6 linked regions of the Homo sapiens genome follow. The protein of the gene in region 6 interacts with the protein of the main gene of each other region in a pairwise test. Each region holds a gene or a part of one and is shown on either strand. Other genes may lie near its edges.

Region 1 (4,032 bases), on a different chromosome or scaffold from region 6:
CTACATTGATCCTGAATTTGCTGAAGATCCAAGAATGATTAAAGTTGATCTTATCACTCTTTCTTACACTTTTTTTGAAGCAAAGGAAGGGCACAAGTTGCCAGTTCCAGGATATAATTGAAGTCAGCAACTAAGTCTTCCTTCAAAGTTGTGATTTTTGGGAAAATCATATATCCTATCTTCTCAAAGGAGAAATATTGTACAATAATATGAAGGCTTATATTTTAAATAATTATTTTTTCTCAACTAATTTTTTTCACTTAAACTTGAGAGAACAAGTTCAGCTTTTATCATAAGAAACTCATATGCCTAGCTAGAATATATGACTGACTATTCAATACCATACTGAAGAGTTTGATACTATTAAAATAAGCCGCTTTGTTTTTTAAATATGCAGGCATGGGTTCAGCTTAATTCCATAATTCCCTTCCAGATTATTAACTCTTCATACTTACAGCAATGAATCTGACAATGTTTTTCAAAAATGTATGCTCAGGGTTATTTGTTTCAAGTCATAGGCCAGAACTTCTAACCATGTTTATTGTGTCTAAAAGAGTTGGTTGCTATTTTCCTTCATTATGAATAGTCAGTATTTTAAAAGCTCAAAGTAGAAGAGGAGTCACTAAGCCCTAACAGCTTGTCCAAAGATTTAAATTCTTATTTCAAATTTGATTTGTCCTTTAAGGTTTAGGGCTATTTTATATTCAGAGTTCTGAATAATTACTTTGAAACTGTAGTATCATAAAATTGAAATAAAATACATCTACTAGGCTGTTAGCCAAAGCATCACCATTACAAGTCCATGAATGTTAAAATGTACAGGTGGGATTGTGAAGATTTACTGACATCAAAAGTTCTTCTGGAAACAAACCTTTGTTAAAAAAAAAAAGTATTAAATTGTTTTAATAGTGATTTATTTGTCATCAAATGTACAACTTATTCTAAATATTTTCATTTTCTGTGTTCTAAATAGAAATATTAAGTTGCAGTAAAAAGAGAAAAAAAGGCTATTTAGCATTACAAAGAATCATATTTAAAGGCTGCCCAATGTAGAGTCTAGTGACCTGTTCAGGACACCTGAAATATAATTAAATGACAATTATCAAGGTTTTAACAATTTATAATTCTAAACCAGAGGATTATAAAGAAGTGCAAATTGACTTTTACATTCAACTTTAGTTAAATGAAGGCACTCAGTATTCTTCCTGAATAATACATTCAGTTTCTCACATTTTATGCTTTCATCTATTCAGAATTATTTCATAGTAAAATAATCTACTCTTATCACAGCTGTGTGACGATTTCTAAATGTAGGAAGGCCTGTGAAACATGACACTGCAGTTAAATTGGTTGGCCTAAGGACTAAGTAATTTTTCTTCTGCTGAAGTTTTAAGTGAGTATTTGTTCCAAACAAGTTCTGTTGAAATCTCACGCTGTTGTCAGGAATCAGTGTTATCCTGGAACTGTTATTCTATTTAATCTTCATTATAGCAGAAATGTGCCACCATGGCTTTGACATGTTGGTAGGTATTGTCTTCCAGGCTTCAAAGCTGCACAGAGTCTACGTTTTAGAGAGTTGGCACCTTTGATGTGGTAGTGAGCTGATCATCCACTTTCTTCTAAAATAAAGAGAAGAAAATGGCCAGTATTCATCCTGTCCTTCTCTTTCCCCATTCCTTGATAACTCTCTTGTCTTTACTGGGAAGCTGGAGAGTCACAGTCTAGTAGAAGAAAGGTAAGAATGTGCTTCTTCCATAGGGGAGGGTATAAGGGGAATAAATAAGTTTTGATAGTTCATTGGTGACCATTAAATAGTAAATACATGGGATTAGTAGTGCTGAAAATAGGAAAAATTCAGACCTATTTGGAGGACTAACGGTAAATGGGTCTACTGGTACCGGTTAACAAGTATTAACTGCATATGAAAAACAAATGCCTGATTTCAGTGCTACTCCTATTGCTCATCTATTTTGTTAGCATTAATATTTCTATACCATAAACTACTGTATTCCCAAGCCTTACTATTTACAGATGAGAAAATCACAAAGAATGACTCTCATTAGTGAACAATGGTTCAGCACAATTTGAATGATTCAGGGGAACTCATATTTCAAAGTGTCAGACTCAGATGGCCCTTAGAAAATTTAAATACTAAATATGTAAAGTGATAATTATACTGAAATTATATGGAATATGGAATTAAGTTGTATAAGTTGAAGTCTTTACCTCAGTCACCATCATTTTGAGCTCCTTTGTGCTGGTGAGCATCAATTTCTTCATAAATAGCTCTGAAACAAAGCCATCACAGCAAAAGGGTTATGTATCAATTTCAAAGTGCTATTTTGGTTTTTAACTGCCAGCACTGTAATTAAAAATTGAGCTGGTTTTGGAGTTCAGGCTACATATGAGTAAAAATAAGTCTCTGCCCTGAAGTGTGTATTCTAGTTTATTTAAATTCTAATGTTGCACTTCATTTTTTCTTTTTTTTTGAGACAGAGTCTCACTCTTTTGTCCAGGCTGGAGTGCAATGGTGCTTTCTTGGCTCACTGCAACCTCTGCCTCCCAGGTTCAAGTGATTCTCCTGCCTCAGCCCCACGAGTAGCTGGGATTACAGGGACACACAACCATGCCCAGCTAATTTTTTTGTATTTTAAGTAGAGACAGGGTTTCACCCTGTTGGCCAGGCTGGTTTCAAACTCCTGACCTCAGGTGATCCACCCGCCTCGGCCTCCCAAAGTGCTGGGATTACAGGTGTGAGCCACCACACCCGGCCTTATTGTTGCAATTCCTATGTCTCTTAAAAGTATGTATTTCATAGAACCAATTAATTTTTTCTTGTGATTGAAATGAGAAATATGACTCAAATTTGGACAGTTTATGTTTTGCTTAAAAAACTCCTCAGTTTCTTCTGGTTTCAAACTTTTTAAAAAAATATTAGGACAAGTGCAGTGGCTCACACCTATAATCCCAGCACTCTGGGAGGCTGAGGTGGGTGGATCGCTTGAGTCCAGGATTTCAAGACCAGTATGAACAACATGGCAAAATACCATCTCTACAAAAAACATAAAAATTATCATGTGTGGTGGTACACACCTGTAGTCCCAGGTACTCAGGAAGCTGAGGTCGGAGGATCACTGGAGCCTAGGAGGCGGAGATTGCAGTGAGCTGAGATCGTGCCACTGCACTCCAGCCTGGGCTACAGAGCAAGACTTTCGTCTCAAAAAAAAAAAAAAAAAATTAATCTTCCAGCTTATTTAAACTATGTGATTACAGTCCAGACTCCTCAGCCATCTATAGCTCATCACTGTCATTTCTGTACTTTTTTTATATTGTATTTTTTCAATGACATCCTTCATTCGTTTTTCTTTTTTCTTTTTTTTGAGACAGGGTCACTGTCACCCAGGCTGGAGTGCAGTGGTGCAATCATGGCTTATTGCAGCTTCGACCTCCCAGGTTCAAGTGATCCTTCCACTTCAGCCTCTCAAAATGTTGGGATTAGAGGCATAAGCCACCATGCCAGGCCCATTCAATTCTTTATATGCGTCTTACATATGTCTGTAGCTGGAAAATATACCTGAAAGCACAACATTCATATATACAGTATAGCAAAACATGGCTGAGGAAAAATCTCAAAAATCACAGCGCTATGAAACCATGATCACCAAGTTCATAAGGCCCCAGAATGGTGCTACAATTTTAATGTTTCCCTAAAAAGTTTGGTCTCATCTCCCTCAAAACGATTTCAGTCTTCTTCACTCTCCTCAAACCTCTAAACTCTCTGGTAGAAACTGCATTCTTAATACATTAAATGTCTTGATATGGAAACTTCCTCATTTTCCCATCACTAAATCTTCAAGTTTATCTTCATTTGTATTGTCCATTATTTCTGTGATCCTGTCTATTCCTGGCTTCTGAAGCACTTGACCCATTCAGTTATTCTTCCCTTCCTGAGTCTTCAACCTCTCCTTCTATGCCAGATCCTATTCTTCAACATTCACAGATTCTCCAGCATCTCCCATGTCTCCCATTTTA
Region 2 (4,927 bases), about 99 Mb from region 6:
ATTATGTGGCACTAAGAAAGCACTGCCAATTAAAGCAGAACCTGCCTTCAATCGTAAGACCATCACAATTTCATAAATTATGTTAAAATATTTTTTAAGATTTCTTAGAATCAATTTTTTTATGAATCAGATATCATTACTTTAGCCCAAAGAACTGAATCTTGCATTTTGGCATTTTAGGCATCAACCATGAGCTTGTTGAAGAGGCATTTGGGGGTAGCGAGGAGCAGAGAGAGAACTTTCCAACCACACTACCTGCGTTTTTGAAAGGCTGACATGGCTCTTGGTTCTCAAATCAGCCTCAAAATAGCCTGAAAAGCCTGGAGTCCACTCACAGAAGAGCAGACCTCCTCCGGTATGCACCATGCTGACAGCACCACCTTACACACTCAGGTGTGCAAAAACCGGCGCGGGGGACATCTCACACCTTATGTAGATCAAATGCTCCTTCCCTGATCCTCTGTAGGGAACTTCCTTTTCTCTAATCCTAGATCTTTTCAAAAATTCTAACCAAAATAAAATTTAAAAAGAAGACAATGTCTTGTGTCAGCTCAGAATTAAGGGCAGATAGATAGTAAGCTCCTAGCTGTGATGTCACTAGACTCACACACCCCCATGAAGGCAGGAGCAAGTACTATCCTCCCTGGACACATGCAGACTTAGCAGAGGAAGACTCTGCAGGAAATGAGGGGCCATGCCATGATTAGGGCTCCCATGAGCCAACTCCTTGCCTGCACCTCTCACACCGGAGAAAGAACAGTAAATACTGTGTAGCTGCCTTTGGAATAAACATGTGATAGCAAGTCAGGACCCCCTTGCCACATACTGCTAGGAACACAGAACACTCACCTGTACAATCCTCTCAAACATATGAGCCAGAGGGAGGTAGGATATGGCCACATCATCAGGAGTGGGCTCATAAGCATGCTATGTAGGCCAGGGAAGTAAGAGGAGGCAACATGAGATTAATGCCAACTTTCAATTCCAATGGAGATTTTAAAACTACCTCCTCCCAGGACTACCACAGACAGCTGTATAGGCGGTACACTGTGTAGATCTGAGATGCCTTGAACTGCATATAGTGTAGAAATTTGCAGTGATCCTAAAAGACCAACGCTTGAAAATGTACAGTCCTCTAAACAAAGAACACGCTGGTGTTTGTCCACACTCCAGCCTTTAACGTGTGTGTGTGTGTGTGTGTATGTGTGTGTGTGTGTCTGCCTGCTCTAACCTCAAAAATAAAAATCTTATGACAGATTCACATTTTAATGAGAGCCTCTTTTTCAACTGACCACTGACCTCCACACATTTGAGAAAGGCAGCAGCATTTGAAACAATATTTTGATGGGTTATCATGGCTCCTTTGGGGTCACCTGTAGGAAATAAGAGGTGGAGAGAAAGATACTTTATGTAGCTAATAGGTAGCCTTTGGCCTTGAAAGAAACTAGATTCAATTGGTTTTATTCCAGAAGGCCAAGAGCATTTCCTGTCACTGTGTCTTTTTGTGGATGGTATATGCCTCTGTTTAGGAATAATTAATGCCCCCGGAGATTCTACTGCTGAATGCATCGTTGGCCTTCTACTACTATGCAGAGCACAGCCATGATTTCAGATAGAAGCACAGCTGCAAAGAAAAATTCAAGTTAACCCTCCTTGTCCCTCTGCCCCACATCTCATGCTGTTTATATGTTTGGAATTCCAGATCTACCAATATTATATAGTGATATGGTTATAAACCTTATAAACTGGGCATACTAGAAAGAATATAACTGTAGACCATGATGGACCACATTAAAAACTATTAAGCATTCTAACAGATGGGTGGATGTAGGGTGGGGTTGAAGCCCTTTATGGAGAACTATCACTGAGTTATCTTGATTGAATGAAACCATTCCAGCGGTGTCAAATCAAGAGAGTGGTGGGTTGGTGGGGGCGGGGGAAAGGACTTTCTGACATCATCTTTAAGACCCCTGAAATCTATTGAATATAAACACCTCCCAATATATTAAATAAAGTGTATTTACTTATGTTTATGTTTTTCCATTTGGGAATTCACACTTAGAAGCCTTAGGCTGTGAGCCCCTAAGTATAGGGCTCTTTAGAGGGAGTATTTACCAGCCTACCAGTGGCCAAGAATTGAAGCCATGTTCTTGGCTGACCAGGGGTCTAAGGTTCAGTTTCATGGGCACAGACCTGTGGTCCCACTGGTGAAGCAGATGACGCTCAGGTCTTCTGGGCTAGGAGGCTGGAGGAGGAAGCACAAGGGCTTATTCCACCATGAACTTTGAGAGTTGACTATGGCAAGGCTCAAATTCAGGCAGAAGAAAACTTACCACAGGTTTTCTGAAGTGCTCTTTGCCTAGGTTCTATGTGAATGGAAAACCAAGAAAGAAAGACATTAGTTGAGATGGACAGACTGTGATAAATGTGGCCCTCTCCCTCCCTTTCCCGTGAGAACATCTCTATGGGAATATAAGCAAAATTCCAACCTGGATCAGGACCAGAAGCCAACATTCAGGAACAATGGAAGCCCCAGGGAAGAGCATAAGATTTCTCTAGAAAATCATCTACCTATAGAGGGTAGATTGCATGTTCAAACTTCCCATTGTACTCTTAAGTTTCAGTCATCTAGGGCCCTAACTAAATCTTTTTTGAAAGAAATGAATAGCTAACATTTTCAGAGCTTATTACATATCCATCACTGTCCTGAGAAATCTACATATATGAATTAAGCTAACTCTTTACAAGACCTCTGTGAGGTAGTGATTATTTTTATCACCATTTTACGGACCGAGAGAAGGGAGATGAGATTGCCCAAGGTTGCCTAACAGATGTGGAGCTGGCATGCGAACCCAAGCAGCCTGGCTCCAGGAGCCACATCCTTTAACTATTACTAAACCCCTATTTATATATTATCCACTTAGAAGTCCATACAGCTGGCCACAGAACTTTGTCCTCTCCTGGCATGAGTTTCAAAGTTGTCTTGTGGAAATTATTCTCAGAGCTTCACAGCATGAGTCTAATCTACTCCTCACGTGCCACCCCTGGAGAACAAGAACACTGTCCTCTTGGGAAGGTATCTTGCAAGTTGCCCAAGGTGTTGGACAAGCATTGGAGCTGCAAGCTAAATTTCAGATCCATACCTCAGCATCATATAGGGATAAGATCTCAATTCCACTCTTCTCCCCTCTTTGCTTCAGGTCATCATCAAAGGGGTCCATAAGGATGATCACCTTCAGGCTCGGGGTGAAGCCTTTCTCTACATTCCCTATCAGCACCAATGCCTTTTGGGGTGTGTCACAGATCACCATGGCGATATCAGCTGGAAGCCAAAATAGAACCAGAGGTCATTCCCTCTCTCTGCTAAGTACCTGATTGCCTTGCAAGAAGGAAGAGGTTTTAAAAGTTTTCAAAGCTAACAGGTGTCCAAAGGAGATTACACCTGCAAATCAGATTTATAATGTACAACCTGAAACATTCCATTGATGATAAATGAACTTAACTGAAACAGAAGCACATGTTCTTGAACTGTGCCAGCAGATTTTACAGTTTCTAGAGGAACCACAGAATTCCTTCTGCTTAAGAAGTCATTCAGATAACCTAAACAGGTTACTGAGGTGTGGTTCTATCACTGTTTTATTTGAGGAGGATAGTAGGGAATAGAAGAAAAAGAAGGGGGCAAATAGGATTTTTAGCTGACAAGTATTTTACAATTCTAAATTTTAGCATTTGCTTTGATGCATGTTTAAAGTTTCAAATGATGTTTACTGTGCAAATGGACTTACTCACTTAATCTACTAGTCCCATGACAGAAGGTAACATGTTGGATATGTGAAAGGGCTGTTACTTGCCCATCAAATTTGGACTTGTTTCTCTAACAACGACAATTATTTTCTGCAGACTCACCATGGACATTGGTACATGCTGGTTAACTGTATTGACTTGGATTTACAAAGGTAGGAAATTAAATCTGTAGCTTTACTGTGATTAAGTCAATTAAGCTCACTCTCTGGGCTTTTATCTAGTGTGTTCAGAGTGAGTAGTCTTGTCTCTATATCATCATACCATGTCACCCTGACGCATGTCATTGAAACTTCTTTCTGTGTGTATCTCTGCTTCATGGGCTTTTTGTAGCTTTCCTGAAAATTATATCCTAAGTACTACAAAACTAGAAAGACTTGAACATTTTCCGACCACAGCATTTCAAGTTTGCTTAAACAAACAAACAAATAAACAAAAAAGCAGAAATTGAAGAAATACTCAGCATTGAGAAAGAATCAAGTTGTAATGTAACAGCAAAATTTTACCCTTGTTGACAATATGTACGATGGCTTCTGGTCCCAAGGTGTCATACAGAGGTACAGCTACCATAGAGTACGTGTAACAAGCCAATTCGGAGATGATCCACTGTACAGAGAGAAGTTCAAGTAAGGACTGGAGGGCACACTGAAGAGTACCAGTTCAGTCATTCAGCCAACAAATGCTGTCTGGTTTTTTGTCTTGTTTTGTTTTGCTTTTTTTTTTTTTTTTGAGACAGTGCCTCACTCTGCTGCCCAGGCTGGAGTGCAGTGGTGTGATCATAGCTCACTGCAGCCTCAACCTTCCAGGATCAAGCAATCCTCCCACCTCAGCCTCCTGAGTAGCTGGAACTACAGGCACACATCACTATGTCAAGCTAATTTTTGTATTTTTTGTAGAGACGGGATTTCACCATGTTTCCCATTCTGGCATAAAACTCCTAGGCTCAACCTATCTGCCTACCTGGGCCTCCCAAAGTGCTGGGATTACTTATTTGTTGACTTTTATGTAAAAAAAAAAATCACTGTGGGGCCATAGGGACAGTTGTAAATACTGCTATAAAGTACAATTAAATAAGGGAGATAAGAAAGGCACAGGGACAACTGCAATACAAAGGTAGACCAGAATA
Region 3 (4,927 bases), on a different chromosome or scaffold from region 6:
AGAAAGCCAAGACCCGGGTGGGGGGGCTCTGGTTCAAACCTTGCCGCTCGACCTCCCTCGGAAGGCCACAGCAAGGAATCCACAGATCACCTGTGTCCCCAGCCAGGGGTTTGGACAGGGCTGGGGAGTAATGGAGTGAGGGGGAGACTGGGGTGGAGGGACAGGTAGAGAAGTGACAAGGAATCACTCATTCATTCACTCATTTAACCAATGTGCCCTGAACTCTGAGCCGGGCACCAGAAACCCGAGGTAAATCAGGAGACCTGCACTCAGGGAGTCTTCACTGTGGAGGGGCACTAAAGTGTTACAAAGGGTCTCCAGGTAGACAGCTGTTCAAGGGACAGTGGGGGTCACAAGAAGAGTGGTCAGAGTCCCTGGGGGTGGTGGGGGTGGGATGAAGCCTTGCCCAGGAGTTGCTGTGAGCGAGTGGGCAGGCAGCTGAGGGTAGAGGAGTGAGGGGCCGTGGGCCTGAGGGGCAGGTCACGCAGGAGGAAGCAGAGAGGAGGGGCATGCCAGGGAGGAGGGGGCCGGCACAGGTGGTTACCCCTCACCGCTCGCAGCGGCCCCTCCTAGGATGTCGGGGGAGCTGATCACCAGTGAGTCCAAGGAAGGTGGTTTCCAGGCTGGCCCCGGGCAGCACAAGCAGGCAGGGGCAGCGGGCAAGCTCATGGGGCCCCTGCGCGCAGGGCCACATATGCTCAGGGAGCCGGGTATGCGAGATGGGGCAAGGCCCAGGCCCCACCCTTCAGGAGGGGACAGTCAGGTGGCTTCATTAGCATCCTGTGGCTGCGGTCACAAAGCGTTACAAACTTTGAGTGGCTTTCCCAGCAGAGATGGCCTCTCTCCCGGCTCGGGGAATAGCAGTCCGAGAGGAAGGCGCAGGCAGGGCGGGCTTCTGCCAAGGACCGAGAAGGTGCCTCCGCTCGGGGCCTCTGTCCCAGCTTCTGCTCTGCTGCCCATCTGCGGGCTTCCCTGGCTTCTGCCACGGCAGGTCGGCCTCAGCCTCTGTCTCCACACGGCGCTCTCCCTCTGGGTGTGTCCGTGTCTCCGTCTCCCCTTTCTGTCAGGACACAGGTCACACTGCATTAGGGCCCACCCCTCTGCAGAATGACCTCATGCAGACCTAACTCATCACGTCCGCAATGACCCTGTTTCCAAATAAGCTCACACTCCGAGGTAGTGGGGATTAGGGTTCCCACATAGGAATTTCAGAGGACAGAGTTCCACCCATGACACTGCCTGAGGTAAGCTAAAGACCACGGCCTCAAGTCTTCCCAGGAGCCCCGTGTAGCATTGTTGTTGTTACCGTGAACTTCACTGACTCCAGGCCCCTGGCCTCCTCCCTGCACACAGCCCGCCTCCAGCCTGGCCGGCATTTTCCCAAAGTAGGCATTTCCTAGCTCCAGCGAGGACCATGGAGTCAGTGAATTGAGGAGCCTGAGGTCCATGATGCAGAGCCCAGGGGCCACTGTGGCATCTCTGGGCCACTCTGGCACCTGGGGAGGCAGTGGGGTCTGTACTGTCAGTCTAGAGACATAAAGAAAGTGCTTTTTGGGCCGGGCGTGGTCGCTCATGCCTGTCATCCCAGCACTTTGGGAGGCCGAGGTGGGCAGATCGCTTAAGCCCAGGAGTTCAAGACCAGCCTGGGCAACATGGCAAACCCCGTCTCTACAGAAATTTTTAAAAATACACAAATAAGCCAAGTGTGGTGGCGGTGCCTGTAGTTCTAGCCACTTGAAAAAAAAGGCTAAAGTGAGAGGGTCTCTTGAGCCCAGGAGGTTGAGCCTGCAGTGAGCCATGATCCCACCACTGCACTCCAGCCTGGGCAACAGAGCAAGGCCCCGTCTCAAAAAGAAAAGAAAGAAACTGCCTTTTGTCCCCAGTGACTCAGGAGGCCAAGGTGAGAGAGTCGCTTGAGGCCAAGAGTTTGAGACCAGCCTGAGTAACATAGCAAGACCCTGTCTCTAAAACAACATTTAAAAATTAGCCAGGCATGGTGGCGTGCATCTGTAGGCCCAGCTACTCAGGAGGCTGAGGTGGGAGGATCACTTGAGCCCAGGAGTTGGAGACTGCGGTGAGCTGTGATCATACCGCTGCACTCCAGCCTGGGCAACAGAGTGAGGTCTCGTCTCTTGAAAACAAAGTGCCTTTCAGGGCAGTTCCTTAAAGGGGGCTGACAGTTGACCCTGCACTTGGATTCCTGGTGAAGTGGGAGTCGGATGGGACTGAGGACGGCGCTGGCTGTGTTGGAACACACCTACTCATTCAGCTGTGGCAGAATAGGCCCTTCCTCTTGTGCTGGCACCATGTTCTCCAGGCGTGTCAGGGCCTGAGGACTGGGCCGGGGCTTGTCCATTCCTGTGTCCTGGGCCAGGCATTTAGCGAGAGCCAAATTTAGCTAGGGCTGTGGACGCTGGACCCCATCCCCCAGGCCCTGCTGTCCCTTATCAAGAGATCAAGAATGGCCTGCGTGCTGGCCTCGGGCATTGGGAGCCTCTCAAGGCTGGTCAGGAGGCCATAGGGTACGGGAAGGGGCCTGCGCTCTCTGGCGTCAGCGGCTGTTGCCCCTGCAGGTGGAGGAAGGCATGCATCTGCTCATCACAGGCCCCAATGGCTGCGGCAAGAGCTCCCTGTTCCGGATCCTGGGTGGGCTCTGGCCCACGTACGGTGGTGTGCTCTACAAGCCCCCACCCCAGCGCATGTTCTACATCCCGCAGAGGTAAGGAAGCCCGTGCGCCTCTCCTCCACCTCTTCCTGCCTGTGCGCTCACACATGGCTTCCTGCAGAGGCCCAGGAAGTGGTGAAGAGTCAGCACCTCAGGAGAGGACACTGAGGCACTGTCCCCAGAGCCAGAGACGGGCTGTGGTTCCTGCTCCCTCCAAACCCGCCCGATCCACTGCCCTGTTTTGGATCTGTGTGGGGTGTGTGCACGGGCGGCGATGTGAGCGTGTGGATGCGTGTGAGCGTGGCATGTGGACACTGCCTGGGAGGCGCAGAGTATCTTGGGGGAGGCAGAGCCGGCCCTTCCCTCCGTGGACACCCAGCTTTCCCACAGGCCCTACATGTCTGTGGGCTCCCTGCGTGACCAGGTGATCTACCCGGACTCAGTGGAGGACATGCAAAGGAAGGGCTACTCGGAGCAGGACCTGGAAGCCATCCTGGACGTCGTGCACCTGCACCACATCCTGCAGCGGGAGGGAGGTAGGAGGCCTGGGGCTGGCAGCCACCCTTTGTCCCACCCTGGCCTCTCCCTTGGCCTCCAGGGAGTGAAGATTACCTCAACATCCAGAGTCTAAAGTGCCAGGTGCCACGGGGCGGGGCAGAGGCTGCTACCAGGGAGGACCAACACCACACAGATGGCCCCAGGTGCTCTAGGGAAGGGGGCACCTAGCAGGGATGTGCACCTCACTGGGGGACCCAGGATACCCTCTCCCAGAGAAAAGAGGTCTGAGCTGAGCCCTGCAGAATGCTGAGTGGTTACCCCGTCCGGAAGCCAGGGGCAGCAGGGCGGAGTGCGTTCCGAAGGCTTGGTGGTGCGAGAGGCTGGCTCACAGAGGGCCCTCGGGACCAGGCGGGAGCCTAGGCTTTCCCTGAGCAGGATCAGACGCTCTTGGAAGGACCATGGGGTGGTGGGCAGGGGCAGCCTGGGAGGGGCAGGCACATGTGTGCAGTGATGGCTACTGTCAAGAGGTTTGTGCAGACGCTTGGAGGGGGCTGGGGCCAGCAGAGTCAGGTGGATTCAGAGATGAGTTCACTGAAAAGGAGGCCAGACTGAGCTGTTGTCTTGTCCTGGGCTTATCAAGGAATACTGCTTGTCCACAGTGTCTGTCGGGCCGGAAGAGCGGAGGAGGAGAGGGGGCTGCAGCTACAGGGACACAGTAGATGGAGTGTTCAGTTCTGTCTTTGAATTCTGAGCCTCTGGGTTCTGCTTCCAGCCTGCACTGCTGGGTGCGAGATGGCCCTGGGCAAGGACCTCGCCTTGCTGGGGCTCCCCTTCACGGTTCAAGGGCACGGGCACCAAGCCCTCCCTCGGTGGCAACATGAGAAGAAGTGGCTCCTGCAGGAAATGGCCGGGGTGTTGTCACCTGCCTGTGGAGGAAGCGGGGACACAGGTGGCAATGGCAGTGGAGCAGCCCCTGGCCCGGCCCTGCCTCTTGCTCCTGCTGCCCTCAGCCTGGGAGCACGTGGCCCCTCCCGCCTCTGTGGCAGCCTGAATGCCCAGGGCCTGTGGCCGGCCAGCATGAGCCATTAGGATGGAGTTGAGCTGCGAGGAACAGAACGGGCCTCCCCGCAATAGTGGCTAAGATCATCTGTGAGTTTATCCTACTGAGCTGTTAGGTCCCAAGAGAGCCAGGCCACGGTTGCCAGGGCTGGCCCTGCTCTGTGAAGGCCCCAGGGCTCGAGGATTTTCTACCAGGTCACTCTGCTGTGTTTGGCCTCCGTTCCCAAAGTCACCTCATGATCCAGGAGGGCTGCTGCAGCCCTCACATCATGTCCCAGGCTGTAGGATGGAGGAAGTAGAAGGGAAGGGGCAAAAGGTATGTGCCTTCTTTTAAGGAAGGTTCCAGAAGCCGCCATATTGAATACTTACAGTTATATCTCATTGGCCACAACTTAGTCTCATGCTCACACCTCATCACAAGGCCACCTGGGAAGCGTAATCTCTACTCTGGGTGGCCATATGCCCTGTTGCCACTTCTAGCCCTGGGCCGCTGGGGAAGGCAGCATGGGCGAGAAGACAGGAAGGGCCGCTTCTGCCGCAGCGCCCCGACCTAATGGAGCAGCCGGCTCACCTGCTCGTTCAAGCAGCCCACTCGAGCCTTGCCAAAGTGCTGACACGGGGCAGTGACAGGAGGCCCAACCCCTGTGGGTGACAAGCCCCCGGTCTGGGGAGAGCACTCAGGCCGCTCTGGAGCTCTGTGCCAAG
Region 4 (5,508 bases), about 12 Mb from region 6:
CAAAAAAACCCAGAAACTCATATAGTTTCTTACTTTTTTAAAAAAGAAAACCCAGCCTACTGAAGAGCTATCAGCATAATTAGCATCTGCCTAAGCTGCCGATTTTCTGCAGGATGAGCTGCCAGCTCACCACAGTGCGGCACTGAGCACCAGAGAGTTCCTGTCCCAGATTCCTCCGGTCAAGTCACATGAGATGCTCTCTTCAGTCCGGGGCTTGGTTGAACGGACTCACCAGGAAACGTGACTTTCGTGTCCGACCTCTGCTGTATCAGGATTCGATTCTTGGTGTTAAACAAGACAACGCTGAAGGCTCGGTGCAGCAGCCCTGCAAAGGTAAGTGCCATTTGTGTGAGTGCATGCCTGGAGTCTGTACGATTGTCCTTCGTGCTTTTTGTCCTCAGTCTGTTTCTCGTAGAAAAGCCTGTGATTGTGGCACCTGGGCAGGGCAAAGGGGACTGCTGGATGCCCAAACACAACGTTTCAGAATCTCAGCGGATTAGAACACTCGGGAAACTAAAAATAGATCTACCAGATGACCCAGAAATCCCACTACCAGGGCAAATATCCAAAATAAAAGAGATCAGTCTATCAGAGAGATATCGCAGCATTCCTGGGTGCTGAGCACCATTTACGACAGCCAAGATATGAGATCAACCTGTGTCCGTGGAGGTTTGAAGGGTTGAAAACATGAGGGTTAGATACACAGTGGCATACCATTCCACCACAAAAGAAGAATGAAATCGGGCCGGGTGCGGTGGCTCACGCCTGTAATCTCAGCACTTTGGGAGGCTGAAGTGGGCGGATCACGAGGTCAGAAGATCGAGACCACCCTGGCTAACATGGTGAAACCCCGTCTCTACTAAAAATACAAAAAAATTAGCTGGGCGTGGTGGCAGGTGCCTGTAGTCCAAGCTACTCGGGAGGCTGAGGCAGGAGAATGGCATGAACCCAGGAGGCAGAGCTGGCAGTGACCTGAGATTGCACCACTGCACTCCAGCCTGGGCAATGGAGCAAGACTCTGTCTCAAAAAAAAAAAAAAAAAGAAGAATGAAATCCTGTCATTTGTAGCAACATGGATGGAACTGGAGGCCATTGTGTTAAGTGGAACAAACCTGGCACAGAAAAACAAGTATCACATGTTCTCACTGCTATGTGGGCTCTAAAGAAGTTGATCTCATGGAGGCAGAAAACACAATGCTAGACACCAGAGGCTGCGAAGGGCAGTGGGGAGGGATGACGAGAGGGTGGTTAATAAGTATAAACATACCGCGATAGAGAAGGAATAATATCAGCTGTTCAATAGCACAGTAGGGTGACTGTAGTTAACAACAGTGTATTATATGTTTCAATGTGGCTAGAACAGAGGATTTGGAATGTTCCCAACACAAAGATATGATGAATGTTTGAGGTGATGGATATCCCAAAATGCCCTATTTGATCATTATGCATGACATGGTGGTATCAAACTATCACATGTACCCCATTAATATGCATAATTATTATGTGTTTATAAAAAAGACACAAAAATGAAAATTAAAAAATAATAAAATGGCTTAAGATGGTCAAAGAAAACCAGAGCTGGACAGGAGTTAAAGCAGGAAAGTCTGACTTTACTGAGAACCATTTCAATAGGGGAAAGAGACCTCCATGGAGAACCAGCCTAACTGCACACAACACCCAAGGAGCAGGCTGGGGCCTATGGATTAAAAGTTACTAAGAGAAAACATCAGTGGGAAGGGGGTTCTGGCTACACCGACCTAACAAGACCTGCTGAAGACAGGCCTGCGTGATCAGACGTCACCTGGGAGGGACGGGGTTGAGGAATTTAATCAGATGCCAAGGTCAGGGTTCTCGCTAAAACAACCTGGTAGAATTCTTGCTGAAACAGGATCTTACGAGGAAGAGCACGGATGCCTAGGAGAAGGTGCAGGAGCCTGACAAGGGCTTGACCAAGCAAAGACGTCATCCAGGTGCTGCTCCCCGAGCCTTCTAAAGACGGCACAGCAAGCACACAGGTGACCCAGTGGTCGCCTCCTAGCCGGAAAGGCCTAGACTCTCTTCTTAGGTTGCCGTCGGGTGGGAAAAATGGGAAAACCCTGGGAACTGGACAGAGAAAATGGGCGGGGGCTACCTTTCTCAATGTTTTCGTTCAGATGGCAATTCCTCTTGGTGTCGGCACCAATAACCTTATCATTCTCATCCACAACAATCAGCATTTCCTCCAAGCGCTGCAACTGACGCCTGTCAACCCAGTCAAGATTTATGTCAGACATAGCTGCTGGCTGTGACCCGACCTGAAATAGATGCACACAAATGCCTCTTTATGTGAAAGATATTGCCATCTCGTTTTTGCTATGTGTTACCAACCACATTAGGATTTAGCATACACCTTCTCTACAAGTGACAGCAATTGTGTTGAAGCAGCACAGTTCTGAGATATGGAAGGTGAATCATCTGTTTCTAATGTGGTGTCTCTCTGAACGGGAAATCTTGGGTACATACATACTCCTCATGTTTTCCAGGTTTCCTTTAGTGACGAGTTAAAGAATCCCCGCCCCACCACACACACACACACACACACACACACACACACACACACACAAAACACACCGAGGTAAACTGTAGGTAACACTCTTTGTACAAGTTTTTGGGGAAAAGTGCAGCCCTGTGCAAAACCACTGGACCTGGATCAGACGTGGAGAAACACACAGCCTTGTAGGAAAGCTACGTCACCCACAGAAGGGCTATGGTCCTCTTCAGAGCCAAGCAGATTCTTAGGTGAAGATCTTCTCACAAAATGTTTTCAGGGCCAGGAGCGGTGGCTCACGTCTGTAATCCCAGTACTTTGGGAGGCCGAGGTGGGAGGATCACTTGAGGTCAAGAGTTTGAGACCAGCCTGGCCAACATGGTGGAACCCTCTCTCTACTAAAAAATACAAAAATTAGCCAGGCCTGGTGGCACATGCCTGTATTCCCAGCTACTCAGGAGGCTGAGGCAGGAGAATCACTTGAACCTGGGAAGCAGAGGTTGCAGTGAGCCGAGATCGTGCCATTGCTCTCCAGCCTGGGCAGACAGAGTGAGACTCTGTCTCAAAAAAAAAAAAAAAAAATGTTTTCAGGGTCATTTATCTTCATGTAAAACCTTCTCATCATCCTTTTCTACTTTTTAAAAAAATGCATTCACGTCTGTCCATTATCATTACTGTTAATATTTTCAGCAATCTGCTCCTCCTCTTTGCAAAAGGCTGTTTGACTTAATGCATGGACATGAGATACAATAGAAATGCAGAGAAAACAATTACTGAATATGTACAAATTTAGATCATAAAAGAAAGAATTCCCACAAGGTAAAACATATGCACTAACCTCTCTTGGAAGCTGGAGACTCCTGGGTATCAGATGTGGAACTCAATGTGCAAGTTGAACCAGGGCCCTTTTATACCCTGGGGATGTAGAAAGATATCAGCTAAGGCAATCTGATATTTTTGTATTCTTAACAAGAAAACACACCCCGGTCTCTCTCTATCTCTCCATCTCTTTCTCTCTATCTTTCTCCCTCTCAATTGAGGGATAATAGAAAATTGTTTTGACACAATCTCACTTTAAAAAATGCTTTTAGTTTTTAAACCTAGGGTAAGTTATTTTCTACTCTATGGCTTTCTTTTTTTTTTTTTTTTTAAGGTGATGTCTAGCTCTGTTGCCCAGGCCAGAGTGCAGTGGCGTGATCTCGGCTGACTGCAACCTCTGCCTCCCGGGTTCGGGCGATTCTCCTGCCTCAGCATCCCGAGTAGCTGAGATTACAGGCGCCCGCCATCACGCCCAGCTAATTTTTTTGTATTTTTAGTAGAGACGAGGTTTCACCATGTTGGCCAGGCTGGTCTCCATCTCCTGACCTCAGGTGATCCGCCCGCCTCGGCCTCCCAAAGTGCTGGGATTACAGGTGTGAGCCACGGCGCCGTTCGATGGCATCTTTTTAATTCACTTGCTGTATATATCATCCCAGATTTTAAAAAGAAAAAATAAAGGTGGCAAATGGAAGAGAAAAATAATAAACATTGTGACTAAAATTACTGAATAAATTCTTAGGATAGCTGAAAATCGATAAATAAATGCAAGACCTTGGAAACCAATGTGTTTGGAAGAGCTAAAAAACTGTATAATTTCTTGCCTATCATATTCCAAATATCATCTACCAACTAAAGCTCTAGGCCAAATAGTTTTGCAAGTAGGGTCTCTTAAAATATCAAAAAAATGTTTGCCATATCTGTCGGTTCTCTCAGGGAATATGAGGAGAGAAGCACGATGGACGCATGACTCCGCTGACTTTGGCACGGATAATACAGAACAAAAATAACACAGCAGCAGTGATGGGTAATATTCTATAAAAAGATTAATGTGTTTTGCTCTTTTGTCTTTCCATAAGTTCACCTTTATGCATGTAATTTTTAGTTACGTAGAAAATCAAAAGGCTATGCCTGAAATGTTTTCCCTGGAAATCAGTTCTGAGACTCAGGAATAAATGGTCTGTTTGAAACTTGTTTCTTTTGCAGTCAGAAGAGTAAGAATGGGAGAATGATACTCTTTTAAAGATCTAAAAAATAATAAATAAGTCTATGAATTAGGCTTTGAGGAAGAAACTAATATACAATACCGTACCTATTATAATCCAACAACTCTAATAGTAATAATAATAATAGTAAGACAGCCAGACACACATTGTGTCCTTCCTTTGTGCCAGTTTCTATTTTAAGAGTTTAATGTATATTAATTCATTTGGTCCTCACGACAGCTTTCTGAGATAAGCGTTATTTTTTATTATCACAGCATCGATAAGGAACTGAAGCACAGAGAGGTAAATTACCTGCCCAAGGCAATGTGGCTGCAGATGCAGCTGAGCCCCCAGAATCTGTGCAGTTTAACATGTTGGGATCGTCACCACCAAACTAAGCACTGAAAGCTTTAGAGGCAAATGTTATCAAAATTTCAAGGAAGGAATTGTCATTCTCTGTAAAATGTTCTAGGGGATAAAAAAGGAGGGAAACCCTTTGCTAGGTTGATCTGGGTACAAGGTTCTGACACATAAAGCACACAAAAAACATTATAAAGGAAAGGAAGGAAGACATTTTGATTAGGCTATATGCGGAGAATTTTCTTAAGAGAGGTTATGACAACTTTAAGAATGACAGTTGATGACCTATAATGCTGCAGGTAGGAGGTTAAGAATAAACTCTAGGAATAGATGATTACATCTGATTAAGGCAAATTAGAAGCAACAGAAAGGGCTCTAGATATCAGTGAAATATAGAGAAGGACATGGAGGCCAAGACTGGGAAAAGCAGGTAAAAAGAAATGGAAGTGGAAAGAGTTAAAAAGGAGTAGGCCAAGTATTGTAGGTATGAAAGAGAGGGTAAAACAAATACAGCATGTGCTAAAAGGGGTATCCTTGAACAAGAGAGCCATAATAATAAAGAAAAATATCCCAGACACACAAGATGACTTAAACCCACAG
Region 5 (4,927 bases), on a different chromosome or scaffold from region 6:
TTGTTTGAGCAAACACAAAGAAACTTTGTGTTTTTGAAGACAATCAGAATGATTACCTTTCTACCTCTAACTAATCAGGTATTGATTGACAACTTTTTGGCATTATAAATAAAGTAAAATAGATCTCTGCATTCCAAAATATGTTTTTTAGTTTATTTATATCCTGAAGAAATGGTAAGTTTTCACTGGAACTGATTACAGTAAACAATAATATGTCCCCTTAGTCTTTCTGACATTTTTATATAGATTGAGATTGAAAAACCGTGCATTTGGGGCAGTGGTATTATGGTCATTTCGTTGCTATTTTCTGTTTTAATAAAATCCTAGAACTAGTAGCAACCGAGTAAAGATTGAGTTTGCAAGATAACAGATTGTCTCAAATCTATTCAATTCTCAGCAGTTTTTCATCAAATAATTTCAGGATCCATTTTATTACTCATTTTTGAAGTAACACCTTTGGTTTAGTTTTATTTTCCCATAAATTCTGCTTTTGCTTCTGTAACTTTTTTCTTGAACTATAAGCATAGTCATCACTCAGTTGATATCTAGTTTATTTTTTGCCTTCATTCGTTGTTTAGTCAGTTGTTATTTAATTTAGAATTTTATATTTTTTTGGCTCTCAGATTTTATAATGAACTTTTATTAGACTGAACATGTATGTTTTTGATGGAATCCAAACTGAGCAAATGTCACACAGTATTTTCTTGTTGTGCTCGAGTGTTCGTCTCCTTGTAGATTGTATCTAGGCTAACATTTCATTTAGTTGTTAATGCTGACGTAATTGTTTCCTGCTTATATTTTATCATATCCCTGAGCTTCTGTGTGCTCTACATTTCATAGGTAATGAAAAGCAATGTCCTTTACTCTCAGGGAGCTTCGTCCACTTGCCTGTGTCACAACCTCTCCCTTGGTGCTAATTAGGAAGCTTCTTGTGGGACTGAAGGGAACTGACCACTGGAGCAATGGCCCAAATGTTGTTTTTGGAGCAGAGAAATTATTAGCCCAGAGATTCCTTAAATTCTCCGTGTGATTTATTTTTTTATTTTTTGAGTTGAGGTCTAGCTCTGTTGCCCGGGTTGGAGTACAGTGGTGCAATCATAGCTCATTGAAACCTCAAATTCCTTGGTTCAAGCAATTATTTCCCCTCAGTCTCTAATAGCTGGGACAACAGGCATGTGCCACCATGCCTGGCTAATATTTATTTTATTTATTTTTTTTTTGTAGAAACAAGGTGTTGCTATGTTGTCCAGGCTGGTCTTAAACTCCTGGCCTCAAGTGATCCTCTTGGGTTGGCCTCCCGGGACTCTGGGATTCCAGGTGTGAGCCACGGTACCTAGCCATATTTTTATTTGTATGAGTATTAAGTAGTTTGACACAGCAACAAAGTTGTCCTTTGTTTCCCAAAGGCAAAAGTATACATTTCTTACTAAGATATCTTATAAACATTCTCTCTCCTAACACCTCCTTCTAGTAATCATTTTCACATAGTAGAATACTTCACTCAGCTGAAAATGAGTGGCCAAGAAAAAAATACAAGAAAAGGAATAAGAAGTGATTATTTTCTTTAGGGCTGCACTTTGAATGTGATGAGTAATAAGGTTACCTTCATTGTGGAGGTGATGTTTACAATTGCCTCCAGCCCTTTACTATTGGTGCTGAAGCCACCATTGGTGCCAGCTCTATAATTTCTTCTTCTTGTGGAATTAACAAAGAAAGGAGTGTCAAGGACTGAGATGACCCTCAGATTGGGGGGCTGTCTTAGATTCTAGGGCTTTGTAGTACTATGTTTCTGTTTAAAGTAGTGGCCTCAGGTGACTTTGTAATAGCCCTGTAGTTGCAAAAAGGGTAACTACAAAGAAATGAAACTGACTCTAGTGTGTGTGACTTCTGGAAACAGAAGTGGGGCAGTAAGTTGGCCATGATATAGCTAGTGTCATAGGACTACAGCAGAGTAGTGAGTGAATGGCCTTAAGCTTACAGCTGTGGTGAATAAGAATGTGTGCTATTTTACACACAGAAGAAAATGATTGACTTTTGGTTGGAGGAAAGAATTTATATCTGGTCTTTTGGAAATTATTCTGTTGCTGTTTTATGTGGGCTCTCTCTCTCTCCCTCTCTCTCTCTCTCTGTCTGTCTCTCTTGCTGCTCCCTCTCCCTGCCACCTTGTCCATTCTCTGCTTGCTGGTGTTACTTTATGTTAACTAGTCTCCTTGGACTTCATTGCAACCTTTTAAGCCAGCCGTTCAAGTGAGAGGCTCTGGAGTGATCATAACGGTGATAACAATGGAGTAAACATTTCCAGAGACACTGATTTTTTTTTTATATGCTCTGTTTTTCTTAGGCAGGATGATGTAGAAGATAATTGCACAGATATGGAAGGAGATGTTTCTCTGTATGTGAAGCCTTTAAATCCAGAACAATTAATTTCTTCTCTTCTTAAAACCCCGTAACATCACTTGACTCTGGAATTTCCTATTTTCTTTTACTTTCTCCATTTTTTTTCCATCTGTCCCTCCTACGAATATGTTTTACATGAAATAATGTATTGGGTTTTATCTTTTGTCCCAGCAGACCTGAAAATCCCAGTATATTACCACAGACACACATACCATCTGGTCACCAACAGGGACATCAGGGCCAAGAGCAGTTTATACTTCTTTCTTTAGCTCACAAACTACTATAGCTTGCCTGTTCAGTTTTTTTTTTTTTTAATATTCAGTTTTGTGCCATACTCTCCCCCACCCCCAGCCTGCTGCCTCTGCAGAGCATAACATTCTAATCTTGTCAGACCGTGGATAATAGGATGTTCCCTGGTCTTGGCATAGAGGCCATAGGCATACAACATGCTTTATCTGCCTTGCTTAGACTCAGCATCCCTTTCTGTCTTGAGAGATTCAGGCTTCCATAAAGTAGACCTGTAGACCTATGTTGGCTGAGGTCACCCTGCATTACTACTTTCCTCCATCCCTGAACTAGGACCAGTTAATTTTCGAAGTCTAGTTCTTCAGTGTCTATTAAACTTTTTCCAGTAGTTAATCGATCTCTTAAATTAATTTTCTTTTCAGATTATTTTTGGTCACCTAAGAGGACCCTGAAGCTATAGTGCCAAAGGTTTAAAGCATGAAGTACATTCTGTGGTTGGTCATTATGGGATTGGATGCCAAAAGGAATGGGAGAGAAGAGACTATAAACATATTTTAAGCCTTATCTCTTTTCTCCTATTCTTTTCTTTACCTTTCCTGGCCCATGCTTTCCTGCCATATCTTTGCTATGTATTTCTTCATCTTGAGCTCTCAAGGGAAAAAACAGGAGTCCTTATTTTTCTATTTATTTCAGGGAAAATTGAAGGTAAATAATATCTGCAAAGCTTCAGGAAGAAATTCAGTTGCATCTGAATCTGAGTCGGCAGTTTTTGATAGCCTGTCACTGCTCAGGGATAGCACTAAGGCTCTCTTCAGAACCAAAGGGCAGGATAAATAAATCTATGAAACTAGAGGCATCATTGAATCATCTGAGGACCTTTTTTTTTTTTTTTTTTTCACTAAAACGCTTCCTATAACTTGGATTAAAATTCAAAAATGGGATTGCAGTCATTGTTAATTGCTCAACTAGTGGCAGTTTTTCCTTGCTGAGGGAACACTGATGTTGTTTAAGACAGTTACATGCCTAGCCCCAGGGATGAATCATAATTGTTCTAGGCCTTTCATGTCTTTCCTTTCTTCTTGTCCAGATACTTTTCCAACCAGCCTTTACTCGGAGGTGTTCATGTGACCCTGTTTTGGCCAATAAAATGTAATGGAAAATCTGGGAAACACTTGGGAAAAATCTTCCCTCTCTGCTTAAAGGAAAGTTCTTTTTACCTCTTTTTCTCTTGTTCAAGGTATTAGTATTAGTCAGTAGGGTCTGAATCTGTGGCAGCAATCTTGCAGACATGAAATGAAAAGTACAAACATGAAAAACCAGCATATTAAAGATGCCAGGTCAGAAAAATAGAAAGAACCTGCTTCTGTGAGCCACTGAATGGTGCCATTAACCATCTGCATTTGAGCATTTTGAGAAAATAAACCTCTATTTCTTAAAGTTCTGTATCAGTCAGGGTTTCCCAGAGAGGCAGAACAATAGGGATAGAGAGATACATAGAGAGAGATATGAGAGGGATAGAGAGAGACACAGAGAGAGATATGAGAGGGGATTAAGGGAGTTGGCTCATGTGATTGTGGAGGCTGAGAAACCCCACCACAGGCCATTCATAACCTGGAGACCTTGGGATGCTGGTGGTCTGGCTCAGTACAAGTCCAAAAGCCTTGGAACCAGGGAAACTGATGGTGTAATTCTCAGTCCAAGGCTGAATTTTCAAGTCTGAGAACCTGGGGGTGGGATGGGGGAGTGATAGTTTTAAGTCCTGGAGTCCCAAGGTTAGAGGATCTGGGGTCCTAATGTCCATGGGCAGTTGGAGAAGAGTGTATCCCTGCTGCAGGGGAGAGAGAGAAGCCAATTCTCCTTTCTTCTGTTTTTATTCTACCCAGGCCTCCAGTGGATTGGAGGTGCCTGCCCATATTGAGGGCAGATCTTCTCTGCCTAGTCCACGCTAACTCACATGCCAATCTCCTCTGGAAACACCCTCACAGACACACCCCAAAATAATGCCTTACCAGTTCTCTAGATATTCCTTAATCCAGTCAAGTTGATGCCTAAAATTAACCATCACAGGCTTTATGGCTCTATTACCCAAGAATTCTGTTACTTTCAGCTGAAAACATTTCTAATGGACATATTCCAATTCTGTATAGATCAGATCTCAGTTTCATTTCCCATTATATCCTTCTCTCTCTTGATTTAGAATTCTCTTTTTCTCCACTCTTCTGTGTATGCTAAAATACTGTCAATCTCGTCTTTGAAGGTTTTGCTCATCTTTAAAAAATCTTAG
Region 6 (4,927 bases):
TAGGACAAGATTAAATAAAAAGGCCAGGCGAAGTGGCACTTTGGAAGGCTGAAACAGGAGAATCACTTGAGGCCAGGTGTTCAAGACCAGTCTGGCAACATAGTGAGACCATTGTCTATATTGGAAAAAAAGAAAAAAACAAAGATTGAATAAGAGAAGTGAGCTAACTGCCGGGCGCGGTGGCTCATGCCTGTAATCCCAGCACTTTGGGAGGCCGAGGTGGGCAGATCACGAGGTCAGAAGTTTGAGACCAGCCTGAGACACATGGTGAAACCCAGTCTCTACTAAAAATACAAAAATTAGCTGGGCATGGTGGCGGGCGCCTGTAATCCCAACTACTCAGTAGGCTGAGGCAGGAGAATCGCTTAAACCCGGGAGGCAGAGGTTGCAGTGAGCCGAGATCATGTCATTGCACCTAGCCTGGGCAACAGAGCGAGACTCCATCTCAAAAAAAACAAAAACAAAAACAAAAAACAAAAAACAAGTGAGCTAACTAAGGGTAGGGAAATCATTGGCTAAATAACAGTACAAGTTATGTCAGAAGTTGTGAGGATGGCTCTTGAATGGCTGGCATTTAGAAAATCCCAGCCTAGATGAATACAAAAAAATACCAGGCTTTATAAAAAGCAAGTGTGTGCCTGACTGCTAGGCTTTTAATAACCTTTCCAGGGTTTCATACTCAAATTGCCAATATTCCTTATACACAAGAGATCAAAAAGTGAGGAAGCAGTAGAAGGTGGCTTATTTTTTGGAGTCTTTTTTTTGCAGAATCAAAATTTGAATATCATGGGTTGTTTTATTTTCTTCTTCTTCTTCTTTTTTTTTTTTTTTTTTGAGACAGAGTCTCACTCTTGTTGCCCAGGCTGGACTGCAGTGGTATGATCTCAGCTCACTGCAACCTCTGCCTCCTGGGTTCAAGTGATTCTCCTGCCTCAGCTTCCCAAGTAGCTGGGATTACCGACGTGTGCCACCATGCCCGGCGAATTTTTGTATTTTTAGTAGAGATATGGTTTTGCCATGTTGGCCAAGCTGGTTTTGAACTCCTGACCTCAAGTGATCCGCCCGCCTCGGCCACCCAAAGTGCTAGGATTACAGGTGTGCGCTAACGCACCCGACCTCAGTGTTGAGCCCTTTCTGCTTTTTCCCTCTCCGTTGCTGGGTTCTGTACACAAGGTAGCGGCAGCCCAGCTCCCAGGCCCCACGACTAAACCAGCTCTCCCTGTCACGGTTCCCCATGTTAGCCTTTTCTTCATAATGCAGTGTCCCTCGGCCACTCTGACCCATGTCATTACTGGGTTAACATTTTTCATCTAACTCCTGGGACCTGCTTTGCTTGTTCACTCTTGCTTCCCCATTTCCCGTCACCTCCTGGTTCCCAGATCTCAGTAATGAGTTGTCAAGTGCCAAGCGTCCCCGATTGTCAAATGTCCTCCAAGCCACCATTCTGCTTTCTTCCGGGCTATTCATGACAGCTGTGAATTGTATGGGACTCTTCGTATGCAGAGGCTCCAATGAGGAAGAGGAAACTGCCCTCCCACTGAGCAACCTTCTGTTGCTTGGGTTGACAAGAAAGCTATATTAATATCTCATCGGAACTCCTATGTTTCTTGTAGAGAAAAAATGGTTTCATTCCCAGCTAGCTCAGAAAAAGCCCATTTCATTCCGTGTTATAGATTTAGAATGATTTCCAATGGCTGGGTTTTTCATGCTTTGTTTGCAATGTTGTGAAATACCGCTTGGTTCTTAAACTATTGCCTTCTTGGTTCTTGTGTGGATAGCTACTGTACTTTGTACCAGTTGTCAATACTTCTGATTTCCCACAAGGTTTGTTTTTGTTTTTTTTTTGCTTTCTTAGATTCTGAAATATGTGGAGTGCTTCACTGGACCTAATATTATGGCCATGCACACAATGTTGATAAACAAACCTCCAGATTCTGGTAATTGTAAGGGAGAAGAAAAAAAAATGGTTTCATTAAAATGTGTAAGGTTGGCTGGGTGCAGTAACTCATGCCTGTAATCCCAGCATTTTAGGAGACCAAGGGAGGAAGATCTCTGAGGCCAGGAGTTTGAGAGTGGCCTGGGCAACATAGTGAGGCTCTGTCTCTAAAAATAAAATTTAAAAATATCCAGGCATGGTGGTATGCACTTGTAGTCCCTGCTATTGGAAGGCTGAGGTGGGAGGATCACTTGAGCCCAGGAGTTGAAGGCTGCAGTGAACCTATAATGGCATGCTCTCCAGCCTGCGTGACACAGTGAGACCCTATCTCTACATAATAAATAAAACAAAACAAAACAAAATAATAAAATAGCTGATGTCTAACTGTAATCATGTGTACAACTGTCAAACTTTGGATAAGGAAGTCTTAAAATAACTTACACTATAACAACAGTGAAATGTGGTAATTATTTCAGATATTAACTGTAGGACTGTTGCTGAATTTTCAGATGACTGGCTCCCCAAAAATGCAGTTTAACCGACATAACTGTTCATATATCAAAGGTTCCTGCCATTCGACGTCTCTAAGCTTGATCAGCTCTTTTTAGCTGTGATAGTGTGGATTCTTGCATTCCTGATAGGAAGACATTATTATTACTAACACAATTAAAATTGTTACTATGAGTCACAAACTATAGTGGTCTTTTTTTTTTTTTTTTTTTTTTTTGAGATGGAGTTTTGCTCTTGTTGCCCAGGCTGGAGTGCGATAGCGCGATCTTGGCTCACTGCAACCCCCACCTCCCAGGTTCAAACAATTCCTGATTCTCCTGCCTCAGTCTCCCAAGTAACTGGGATTACAGGCATGTGCCACCAAGCCTGGCTAATTTTTGTACTTTTAGTAGAGACAGGGTTTCGCCATGTTGGTCAGGCTGGTCTCGAACTCCTGACTTCAGATGATCCACCTGCCTTGGCCTCCCAAAGTGCTGGGATTACAGGTGTGAGCCACCGCGCCCAGCCTATAGTTGTCTTTAAAATGTCTTGTGCTTGCTAAAATGTAGAATCTAAGACCTCATTGGCAGACAGACTGATTGAGAAATATAACCCAGGTTTCTGTATTTTAATAACCTTCCTCAAGCTGGGCGTGGATGTGCACCTGTGGTCCCAACTACTCAGGAGGCTGCGGGGGGAGGATCGCTGGAGCCCAGGAGTTCAAGTCCAGAGATTGTAGTGCAGATCACTTGGACTACACTGGGAAATTCCTCTGTGCCTGCAGTAAAAATCAGCCATGAGAGAGTCCCCCTATCCTTTCTGCCTTTTCTTCCTTCTGATCTGCAGGAGGGGTTTATGTGATAGAAGGCAGCTTAGCATTACCAGGTCTCTCCCTCCTTGAGGAGAGCAGGTGTTCGGGAGCCACACTCAGGGAGCAAACCAGGGGAAAATGTCAGTGTGGTCATGGGCACTCCGACTGGACATGGAATGACTATAGTTGTGGGGGGTGAGGACCTCTTAGATAACTTTTTTTATTTTTATTTTTTTTGAAATGGAGTCTTGCTCTGTTGCCCAGGCTGGAGTGCAGTGGCTCAATCTCGGCTTACTGCAACCTCTGCCTCTGGGGTTTGAGTGATTCTCCTGCCTCATCCTCCTGAATAGCTGGGATTACAGGTGCCCACCACCACACCCAGCTAATTTTTTTTTTTTTTTTTTTTTTTTTTTTTTGGTATTTTTAGTAGAGACAGGGTTTCACCATGTTGGTCAGGCTGGTCTCGAACTCCTGACCTCAGGCAATCTACCCGGCTCAGCCTCCCAAAGTGCTGGGATTACCGGCGTGAGCCACCGTGCCCGTCCTGTTTTGTGTGTTTTTTTTTCTTTTTCTTTTCTTTTTTTTTTTTTTTTGAGACAGAGTCTCACTCTGTCGCCTAGGCTGGAGTGCAGTGGTGCGATCTTGACTCACTGCAACCTGCTGCCTCCTGGGTTCAAGCGATTCTCCTGCCTCAGCCCTCAGCCTTCCAAGTAGCTGGGAGTACTGGTGTGCACCACCATGCCCAGTTAATTTTTGTATTTTTGTAGAGACGAGGTTTCATCATGTTGGCCAGGCTGGTCTCAAATTCCTGACCTCAAGAGAGCTGCCTGCCTCAGCCTCCCAAGGTGCTGGGATTACAGGTGTGAGCCACTACACGTGGCTTAGAACTTTTTTTGACATCAGCCACTTCAAAGGGGATTTCAAACTTGACTCCATATCACTCTCTTCAATGTAATTAATGCAACTGGTTTTTGAACATGCATTACTGCATGCTAGGTACTGTGCCCAATCCAGGGTCACAAAAGAATAAAGCACAAGGCCGGGCGTGGTGGCTCACGCCTGGAATCCCAGCACTTTGGGAGGCCGAGGCGGGCGGATCACGAGGTCAGGAGATCAAGACCATCCTGGCTAACACAGTGAAACCCCGTCTCTACTAAAAATACAAAAAATTAGCCGGGCGTGGTGGCGGGCGCCTGTAGTCCCAGCTACTCGGGAGGCTGAGGCAGGAGAATGGCGTGAACCTGGGAGGCGGAGCTTGCAGTGAGCCGAGATCGCGTCACTGCACTCCAGCCTGGGCAGCAGAACAAGACTCCGTCTCAAAAAACAATAACAACAAAGAATAAAGCACAACAGAGATGAGGATGTTATACCGCTTGCTGGAAAATAGTGTGCATAAGTACTTAGCTACCAGCAACCCGGAAGAAGGGAGTGCGGGATTTGAAGATGTGGAGCCAGTGTGTTGATTTCCAATTTGGTGTTTATCTCTCCGGGGCTGATTTTCTCTAGCATTATTTCATTTGTTTGGTTCTTCTGGGGACAGGTCATTGTTTTTTCAGGCAAAGGATAAGAATTCTGAGACCAGCTTTTTTTTTTTTTTTTTTTTTTTTTTGGTTGGGGGTGGGGGACAGGGACTCGCTCTCTGTCACCCAGGCTGTAATGCAGCAGTGCAATCATAGCTCACTGCAGCCTCG

The links.
Region 1: the proteins of PHYH (region 6) and TOM1L1 interact in a two-hybrid assay, tested with the Homo sapiens proteins (one large-scale study listed by BioGRID and IntAct).
Region 2: the proteins of PHYH (region 6) and ACSL5 come close enough for resonance energy transfer, tested with the Homo sapiens proteins (one large-scale study listed by BioGRID).
Region 3: the proteins of PHYH (region 6) and ABCD1 come close enough for resonance energy transfer, tested with the Homo sapiens proteins (one large-scale study listed by BioGRID).
Region 4: the proteins of PHYH (region 6) and IDI2 come close enough for resonance energy transfer, tested with the Homo sapiens proteins (one large-scale study listed by BioGRID).
Region 5: the proteins of PHYH (region 6) and TMEM135 come close enough for resonance energy transfer, tested with the Homo sapiens proteins (one large-scale study listed by BioGRID).

Annotation. Positions count from the first base shown.
Region 1 is NC_000017.11:54,958,822-54,962,853, reverse strand, and holds the end of TOM1L1 (TOM1-like protein 1), read right to left. Parts: exon of another isoform or gene 2,289-4,032; coding exon 2,228-2,288; 3' UTR 2,227-2,227; exon of another isoform or gene 1,620-2,226; 3' UTR 1,590-1,619; coding exon of another isoform or gene 1,528-1,589; 3' UTR 898-1,527; downstream 1-897. Other genes in the region: COX11 (cytochrome c oxidase assembly protein COX11, mitochondrial), read left to right, coding at 1-121. UniProt on the Homo sapiens protein: Probable adapter protein involved in signaling pathways. Interacts with the SH2 and SH3 domains of various signaling proteins when it is phosphorylated. May promote FYN activation, possibly by disrupting intramolecular SH3-dependent interactions.
Region 2 is NC_000010.11:112,407,902-112,412,828, reverse strand, and holds part of ACSL5 (long-chain-fatty-acid--CoA ligase 5), read right to left. Parts: intron 4,408-4,927; coding exon 4,308-4,407; intron 3,323-4,307; coding exon 3,144-3,322; intron 2,367-3,143; coding exon 2,334-2,366; intron 2,246-2,333; coding exon 2,194-2,245; intron 1,374-2,193; coding exon 1,300-1,373; intron 928-1,299; coding exon 850-927; intron 1-849. UniProt on the Homo sapiens protein: Catalyzes the conversion of long-chain fatty acids to their active form acyl-CoAs for both synthesis of cellular lipids, and degradation via beta-oxidation.
Region 3 is NC_000023.11:153,737,519-153,742,445, forward strand, and holds part of ABCD1 (ATP-binding cassette sub-family D member 1), read left to right. Parts: exon of another isoform or gene 1-1,060; intron 1,061-2,573; coding exon 2,574-2,719; intron 2,720-3,055; coding exon 3,056-3,201; intron 3,202-4,927. UniProt on the Homo sapiens protein: ATP-dependent transporter of the ATP-binding cassette (ABC) family involved in the transport of very long chain fatty acid (VLCFA)-CoA from the cytosol to the peroxisome lumen.
Region 4 is NC_000010.11:1,022,451-1,027,958, forward strand, and holds the start of IDI2 (isopentenyl-diphosphate delta-isomerase 2), read right to left. Parts: upstream 3,410-5,508; 5' UTR 3,366-3,409; intron 2,295-3,365; 5' UTR 2,274-2,294; coding exon 2,132-2,273; intron 334-2,131; exon of another isoform or gene 326-333; coding exon 233-325; exon of another isoform or gene 187-232; intron 1-186. UniProt on the Homo sapiens protein: Catalyzes the 1,3-allylic rearrangement of the homoallylic substrate isopentenyl (IPP) to its highly electrophilic allylic isomer, dimethylallyl diphosphate (DMAPP).
Region 5 is NC_000011.10:87,323,392-87,328,318, forward strand, and holds part of TMEM135 (transmembrane protein 135), read left to right. Parts: 3' UTR 1-4,927.
Region 6 is NC_000010.11:13,288,841-13,293,767, reverse strand, and holds part of PHYH (phytanoyl-CoA dioxygenase, peroxisomal isoform a precursor), read left to right. Parts: intron 1-1,855; coding exon 1,856-1,937; coding exon of another isoform or gene 1,938-1,943; intron 1,944-4,927. UniProt on the Homo sapiens protein: Catalyzes the 2-hydroxylation of not only racemic phytanoyl-CoA and the isomers of 3-methylhexadecanoyl-CoA, but also a variety of other mono-branched 3-methylacyl-CoA esters (with a chain length of at least seven carbon atoms) and straight-chain acyl-CoA esters (with a chain length longer than four carbon atoms).